Homo sapiens: one gene and its partner. The protein of the gene in region 1 purifies or fractionates together with the protein of each later gene. This does not show direct contact. Each region holds a gene or a part of one and is shown on either strand. Other genes may lie near its edges. The genes, in order: SEMA3E and GLDC.

Region 1 (4,553 bases):
TATTCTGGCATTTACTTCTAAATTGCTCCAACTTAATCTGAAGGATGAGATGTAAAACCAAAGACAGATCTTGGCATTCATAACATATATTCTCTTGTCAACACTTTAGAGGTGCATATTTTGTGTACTAATGAAATGATTGTAATGTCTCACATTGTCTCAGTTCTATAGTAGAGTTAGGACAGGCACTATGCAATCTTAAGTAGAATTTCAGCTATGTGAGAGTAGCCATGAATTTGCAATAAAAGGTGTAGGCACCACATTTACTTTTCCTATAATCCTACTATTAGATAACACATATAAGAGCTGCTATTTATTTTGTCATTTGTTTCCATCCTAGAAGAAAGCAAAAGAGAATTTTGAAGGTACAATGTATCACATTTAGAGCAACCTTTAGGTCTGTAGCTCATCAGACTGGCTTTTAAAATATGCAAGCATTCCAGGTTAAAAGTCTCTAAATAACTTCATGTCATTTTACTGTTAAATAATGTTTAGAGTTTGCTATCTTTTGTAGACCTTGGAAATCTAATTATTTATAATGTCCAGTGACATTTACATTTTGCTAAATATACTCTGCTTGTACAAGAACATCTCATGATTAGAAAAATGGGTAGAGAATGCCTGGCTGTACATATGCTTCTATATAATGCAAAAATATCAGGGTGACACATGTTATCTTTTTGTTATAGTTTCGTGATTTTAAAACATAATTCTCAAAAAGTTTTTAACTATTAGCATTTAAAATACAGAATAAGAAAAAGTTATCATAGTTGAGATCAGTGTTTACCATTTAACTCTCCACTATCAAATCAAATATCTATTCAAGTTTATTGGTATCTTAACATAATACCATTCATTTCCATGCCAACAGCTCCTGAGTGTTTGGCTTAGTTTTTGAGATTGATTGAAGGTAGATTGTAAAGTTGACCTATTGTGTTAAGCTTATTTACACAAACACAGTGCCTTGGAAAATCAACTCTGGAAGTCCATAGCAGTTGAATCCTAAGGTATTGCACATCCTAAGTTTTCTAATACCTGCTTTATAGAAATCCCTTGGGTGGTGAATCTCAACTTTGCCAGTTACCTTACCTGGGGGAAATTACTTCAACATTCCTAAATTTGAAGTAAAATTTAGGAATTGCTTTAGGACAAAGGATTTGCCTTTAATTTCATTTGACCAATTTGCTTAAGTAAATAATTTATCATTTCTATCAAATTTATGAGACAGTCACAGATGAACTTTTTTTTTTCAGGCTCTTGAAACACACTTTTCTTAAAAGAGTTTAAAAATAACATCCCTAAGATATAAGCAATAGAAAAAGACTTAATTTTGAAAAAAACCTTATGGCAACAGTGAAAAACAGAATTTGGATTCTGGATGGTTACAAATAGATTATTTTCAAAAGAAGTTGGATTTATTCAACTTAGGTCAATTTATCTTGGTAAGAATTTAAAAGCGCTTTCTGATGCCACATCCTTGTCTGTCACCTATTCTTAAATAATCAGTCTATGTCATCACCCCTCCCGAACTCCCCATTTCCCCCATCAAAATGTGGACTTCTCTCCTGCTGCTGAGTAACGTGGGGCTGGTTATGACTGGGAGGGAGGATGGGAGCGAGGCACGTGGACCAGAAATACTTCCTAGAAACAGCAAGTACGCTGCTCAACCCTGCCTGAACTTTCCTGTAAACAGCCACTGACAGACTGCATCCCTGCTGGGTGGATCCTGCGACTCCTAGAGGGAATGGCACTTCTTGTTTTTAATTAGCAAGGTGAAAGGTGAATTAAAACTAGCAGTTTGGCAAGTCAGTGCAAGAGGCTGACTTCTGAGAGGCTTCCAGGAGCCCGAAGAGAGGACCTCCACGGGAGAAGGGAGTGCGTGTGCTCGGTTTTGTTTTTTTCTCTCTTTTTTTTTTTTTTTTCTGAATGAACAGCTTTGCCCAAGTGACTGAAAAATACAGCTTCTTCCTGAATCTACCGGCGTAGTTGCTGAAGAGCGCTCTAGACAGGACATGGCTCTGAAGACTCACTCTTTGGAATGTCCTCTTGCTCCCGGCTTATAAACAACTGTCCCGAGGAAAGAAAGGTTTTACATAGCCAAATACAGCCTGACAAATGGCACTTCGGAACTGTGCTTTCTGATGACAACGCGTTCGATTTCTGACAAAGCCTCTCGCACGCTGCCCCTGGAGGGAAGTCCTAAGTAAAACTCAGACCCTCCTTAAAGTGAGGAGCGAGGGCTTGGACGGTGAACACGGCAGCATGGCATCCGCGGGGCACATTATCACCTTGCTCCTGTGGGGTTACTTACTGGAGCTTTGGACAGGAGGTCATACAGCTGATACTACCCACCCCCGGTTACGCCTGTCACATAAAGGTAGGTTACCTTTCCAGATCCTTTTGTTTAAAAAAAAAAAAAAAGAAAAAGAAAAAAGAAAAAAAAAGTCGTTTAACATTAACATAGGCTTATGGTCTTCAAAGACCTTTAAAATGCACCTGAAAAATTTATTGCAAAACTGACCTAAAATTCTAAGTACCTCTGATTAATGTGTCATACTCACCTCATCTGAAAACAGTGCAAAATCACATGTCAACTTAGAGATGTTATTTTTGTCTGTAAACATTGGATTTTATCAATAAGGAGTTCACTCACTAGCCCGCGGAACACAGGAAGGGAGGAAGCAGGTTGAAAATAGCCTTGAGAGGCTGAATCCACCAAGTTAACAGTAGATATTTAAATATCAGTTTATGCATATGAGAAACAAGGATGCTGGGAAAGGGCTATAGAAATAGGGGTGCAATTTGTTCTTTTTGTTTTTGTTTTGTTTTGTTTCCATAATGGAGGTAAGAGGAGAAAATAAAAATCCCGAGGAGAAAAATGATGCCCTACCCATAACTGTCATCATCATGTAATTAAAATGATTAACAACTAATATAAATTAGTTTTCCAGTTGAATTGATTATTAGAATTTTTTCATGTGTGGCAAAGGAAAATAGTTTATGACAATGCTTGTAAAATGGCTAATATGGATTAAAGTATTAGTATTCACTAGCATTTGTAGTGTAAATTTATATTGCCTTAATGAAGATCTAACAGCAAATGTTTAAATATTTCATTCTACAATTGTCTTGTAAAGCAACATCATACTCATAAATAAATGATTAAAAGATAGATTTTGCATCAGGACCAATACAAGCCAGTCATGAATAGGTTTGGTAATTCCTCCTGTAAACAAACAAATAATAAACAAAACCATGCTCAGAGAAAGTGACTTTGCTGACTTAATATAAATTCGGAATAAATTGTCAGCAAAGAAGTATTTATTATCACTAGCCATTGACACATTGAGACAGATAGCAGATGTAATACTCAGGATTACATAAGAATCATTTTTCAATTGTGTAAGCTTTTAAATTGTCCCCCACTGTAGAAAGAACAGAAGCTTGTATTTTCTAAGTACAGGTAGAATATTTATCAGGAGAAACAAAAAGGGAGTCCTCAATTTTATGTGACACGTTTGGCCTTTTTGTCTTTTTATTGGACAATCTTCAGTAAATGTTGACTATAGAAATTTTTTCATTTTTAGAATAGTGGATGTTTTCTTAGTTTAAATAGATTTCCTATAATACTATCCAGTAGATAATATAAATTTAAGAAATCCATTGATACTAAATTGGTAAAGTGTTTAAAATATAGTGCCCAGAATTAACACTAATCTTTTAACTTGGGAAGATGTATCATGGTATGTATCAAAATGCCTATTTCTAAGAAGTTTATCATCAAAGATGTCAACATGTACAAATTTGATGTGATGGAATATGGACAAATAAAAATGCAAAAAAATATAATTGATTGTTTTTCTTATGTAGACAAGTAGATAAGCTGCCAGTTTTTGCAAGCTACAATTCTGTTATATCTAGTATTAACATTTTATACCCTATTATTGGGGTACTTGTGTTTTCATGGTTCAATATCAGTGTGTTTTCCAACAGGTCACATTTTAATATTTCATAAGAGAGTTAATAATTTGATCAAAAAATACCAAAGTTCTCTGATACAAGTAAATGTTATGCATAATACTATTATCGAGTTCATCTTTATTATGTCACTTATATTCAAAGAAATAATTGTAACTGATGTTATGAGTGGTGTCATATGGTGTGAGAGTAAAACCGCTAGTATCTATATGTACAATAGACTGAAAACTCCCACAGGATTTCCCTTAACTTTGAATTTAATGGAACCAGCTGAAAATGCACAATATGATGTTTTTATACAAAGGCAGAATAGAGAGAGTTACCTGAAAATAGAATGTTCCTACTTGTGCAATTTAGTTAGTAAAGTCAGTTAAGAGATCACACTGGAGATGCTACCTGAAGCAGCAAATGCCTACTGCACCTCAGGGGCCTCAGTGAAAAGAAGAGCATATATACTGTCAGAGGAGGGATATTCAGTCCCACCAATACAATATGAACAGCCCATTTATCTCTCTAGACTCTGGAATTCAGTGAATATTTTAGAAGTCTTCAAAAACTAGGAATAAGATATTACA
Region 2 (3,822 bases), on another chromosome or scaffold:
AATATTTGAACAAGTGAATCCCTTCCTGAGACTTTCAAAGTCAGGGAATGTTTAGGTTAGCTATTTTTATAATATATATACTCTAAAATAAAGTGTTCTTTTCAGAGCATTAGAGCCTGGGAAACATGGCAAAGTTGTGTATCCTTTTTTAGTTTAGTTCTTGGTTCCAGCTGAATAATTTGAACATTAAGGGATTCTGATTCTTCACTGTGGAAGTGGGCTCCTGAAAAGTAATTTGCAACTTGAATATAAACTTAATTTTTTTATTTTTTATTTTTATTTTTGAAATGGATTCTTGTTCTGTTGCCCAGGCTGGAGTGCAGTGGCATGATCTCTACTCACTACAACCTCTGCCTCCCCGGTTCAAGCCATTCTCCTGCCTCAGCCTCCTGAGTAGCTGGGATTACAGACGTGCACCACCATGCCCGGCTAATTTTTTGTATTTTTAGTAGAGATGGGGTTTCTCCATGTTGGCCAGGCTGGTCTTGAACTCCTGACCTCAGGTGATCCACCCACCTTGGCCTCCCAAAATGCTGGGATTACAGGCATGAGCCACCATGCCCATGCCATATAAATTTTAAACCTAGCAGCTTCTGTGACATTTTGAGCTTGTTCCATCTAGTTTGGGATGATTCACGCAGAAAATATTGCACAATCAGAAGTCCCCCCATTCCCTGAAATGGACCAGTTCTCCAACAAAGCTTGTTTCTTGGAATAGTGAGCTGGGGGTGTTGGGAGAGTGGAGGAGGATGCATCTGCAAAGGATGAATTTTGACTCTGAGGTGTGCACGTGTCATGGTGAATGAATATTCTCCAGGTGGGGAGAGCAAATTGGTGCATGTAAGCTCTGGTAGTAGCATTTCCATTTAATAGTGGAGCACCATTACTCAAACTTGGCTTCATGTGAATGCCTGTGTTCTAGTGTAGTCAGAAAGGAATTCTGGATTAAATATTTATTTGCCATGTACAGAGAAAACTGTAGTGAGAGCTAGTTATAGGAGTGTTAAATGTCTTCATTGCAGAGTAAAGATTGTGATCAGTTTGGAAATACTTGGGTTACTTATTACACATAACTCAGTAATCTCAGACATTTATGTAGTGCTTACCATGTACTGGACACTCTTTAACGTGCTTTCATGTATTAATGTATATTACAACCCTATGAGGAAAATACCATTAATACTTCTGTTTTAAAAATGAAGAAACCGTGATATTCAGATGATGCATGACTTGCCCAAGGTCATAGCTGGTAAGTGATGGAGGCAGAATTCAAACCCAGGCAGCCCAGCTCCACTGTCCACACTCCATCCACTACTTTGCTCTCTCTTCATTTTGTCCTTTGCAAGGTCGTGGGTGTACAAAGTGGAAAACTTCTGTCCTGACTCACCTGGAATATCCAGTTTACAGATGTGCACAAACCCAGTTGCACTAGAATCACCCTGCCATATGCCAACTGCCCCAGTGGAAACGCAGCAGCTTCCTGGCAGCACAGACGTGGGAACACTCAAGCCTGCTGCTAGGGCAAGGGAAGGGGTCACGGAAGTGCAATACTGAAGAATGAGCAGTGATGCTCTGCTAGATAAATCTGGGGGAGGCTGCTGGAGGTAGTGGGATTAACATGTATAGGACAGAATGGCCGGACAGAACCAGGGGAGGACGGGTGGTTCATCAGTCACTAAGGATGCTCCCCCTCTTCTTGGACAATTCAGAAAGTGCCTTGACAAAATACTTTGATCATGAACTGGCTGCTAAGTAAGTCATTATTCAGAGAAACAAGCAAAGCTATTCAGTTCAAAATCCTGTCCTGCTCAAGTGAATCCTGCATTCCCCATCCACACGCACTCAACAACAACAAAAGGACTAGAAGGATATGTGTCACTGGCAACACTGATTTCTCTGAATGGTGCCCTTATTAGTGGTTTTAGCTTTCCTTTAATTACTTTGCAGTTTTGGAATTTTCTGCAGTGTAGGTATTCATTTTATAATTAATTCAAAGTTAAAAATTACTTTATGACCAAAGCCAGTTACTTTTAGCTATGGTATGCCTCGCTGTGTAGTCTTTTCAGTGAATTCATCTCAAGGCAACTAGACTGAACTAGACTGAACTAATCATAGATAAACTGCAGGGATTAAAGTTTACACAAAATTGCACATTGCTTGTGGAAGAGAGAGGAGAAACTAAACCCTCCAATGTTCACATTATTCAACTAGAACTGAGGAGATGAGTTGTCAGAATGATGGACTTGTGCCAGCTGAATGTTCCAGAGTGATTTCTACTAAATGGTTAATGGAGGGCAGTGAGCGGAGGGAGGGAGCATTGTGTAATGCAGCTGCAGGTGTTGGCTTTGTCACCCTAGTTGGGTTGCGCACTCTCCTGAACTGACCCCAGGGGCAACTAGGCCGTGGCAGCTGTTCCCCAGGCCGAGGCCACGACTTGTCTTTAGCCAGATGATGCCCATTGCCAGGTCCTGCCTGTAGGCCCCGCAGTCTGTGACAAGGCTTTCCTTTGGCCATTCCCGACTCATTCAATTCCCAGCTTATAGGAATTATTATTTCTTCTTTAGGATGATTCCAATAAATTTCCATTAAATGACTGTAACAGTAAAGATTAGCTAAATGAGAGAAACAAAGGCTGTAATGAGCTTGCTGTAGCAAGGGAGTCAGACTTGCATATTGGCAGAGGAGAGGAAAGCTTTATTGTGGAAAAAAGGGAAGCCTTTAGGTGTGTTCTGATTGGAGGTTGTTTACAAGGGAAGCTGTCTGAGGATTTACTAGAAGTCGGGCAACTGATGTGATTGGTTATGGGTACATGTTTGGCTTAGCCTGGTTGGTCCTATGTTGGAAGTGGGACAAAAATTAGGGAAGCTATCAGTTATTAATCGAGTTCTGGCCATTTGGGGCCAATTGTTAGGGAAGTTGTTGTTCGGTTTCCTGGATTGTCACTAGAGATAGCAATCTGGCTTTCTCTGTAAGTCTAACTTGTAGCAGGCTGGCTTCCTTGATTGTTTATTCTAAGTAAGCGGGTTAGTTTCCTGGACAGGTGTGGGTGAAAGTTCTATTTTTAAATATGGTCTGGTAATTGTCTATTTGTATATGTAGTCCCTCACAGCAGAATCTGTTTTGTCCATATATATATATATATATACTTTTTTTTTATGGTGAAAAGATATATATATATTTAGAATTAGGCAGCTGGACTCAGTTTAGATGATCCCAATTTTGTTGGCAACATCCAAAGCATCATAATCAGGAGCCAGTCGAACATATACCTTCTTCTCTCCATCAGGCCGAATCAGGGTGTTGCCCTTGGCCACATCATTGTCATAGAGCTTCTTCACAGCCTGTTTAATCTGGTGCTTGTTGACTTTAACATCCACAATGAACACAAGTGTGTTGTTGTCTTCCATCTTCTTCATGGCGACTCAGTGGTCAGCGTAAACTTGATGATAGCATAGTGGTCAAGCTTGTTTCTCCTGGGGGCGCTCTTCCGAGGATATTTGGGCTGTCTCTGGAGTCGCAGGGTCTTGGACCGCCGGAAGGTGGGTGATGTGCGGATCTTCTTTTTTTTTGTGGCTGTGGACACCTTTCAACACTGCCTTCTTGGCCTTTAAAGCATTCTCTTTGGCTTCGGCTTTAGGAGGGGCAGGAGCTTCCTTCTTCGCTTTCGGCGCCATCTTGTGAAAAAGCTCTGTTTTTGTCATTAATTCTCAATAGGCAGATTGGACTGTCACCTTGTTGCCTAATTGTTAAATGTTTACTGACTACTATTGAAAGACACTCTGAGGATATACTTTTTTTTTTTTTCTGAGACAGAGTCTCGCT

The links.
Region 2: the proteins of SEMA3E (region 1) and GLDC purify together in Homo sapiens (affinity purification with mass spectrometry; one large-scale study listed by BioGRID and IntAct). This does not show direct contact.

What each region holds. Positions count from the first base shown.
Region 1 is NC_000007.14:83,646,252-83,650,804, reverse strand, and holds the start of SEMA3E (semaphorin-3E isoform 1 precursor), read left to right. Parts: upstream 1-1,665; 5' UTR 1,666-2,262; coding exon 2,263-2,377; intron 2,378-4,553. UniProt on the Homo sapiens protein: Plays an important role in signaling via the cell surface receptor PLXND1. Mediates reorganization of the actin cytoskeleton, leading to the retraction of cell projections.
Region 2 is NC_000009.12:6,638,993-6,642,814, reverse strand, and holds part of GLDC (glycine dehydrogenase (decarboxylating), mitochondrial precursor), read left to right. Parts: intron 1-3,150; exon of another isoform or gene 3,151-3,690; intron 3,691-3,822. UniProt on the Homo sapiens protein: The glycine cleavage system catalyzes the degradation of glycine.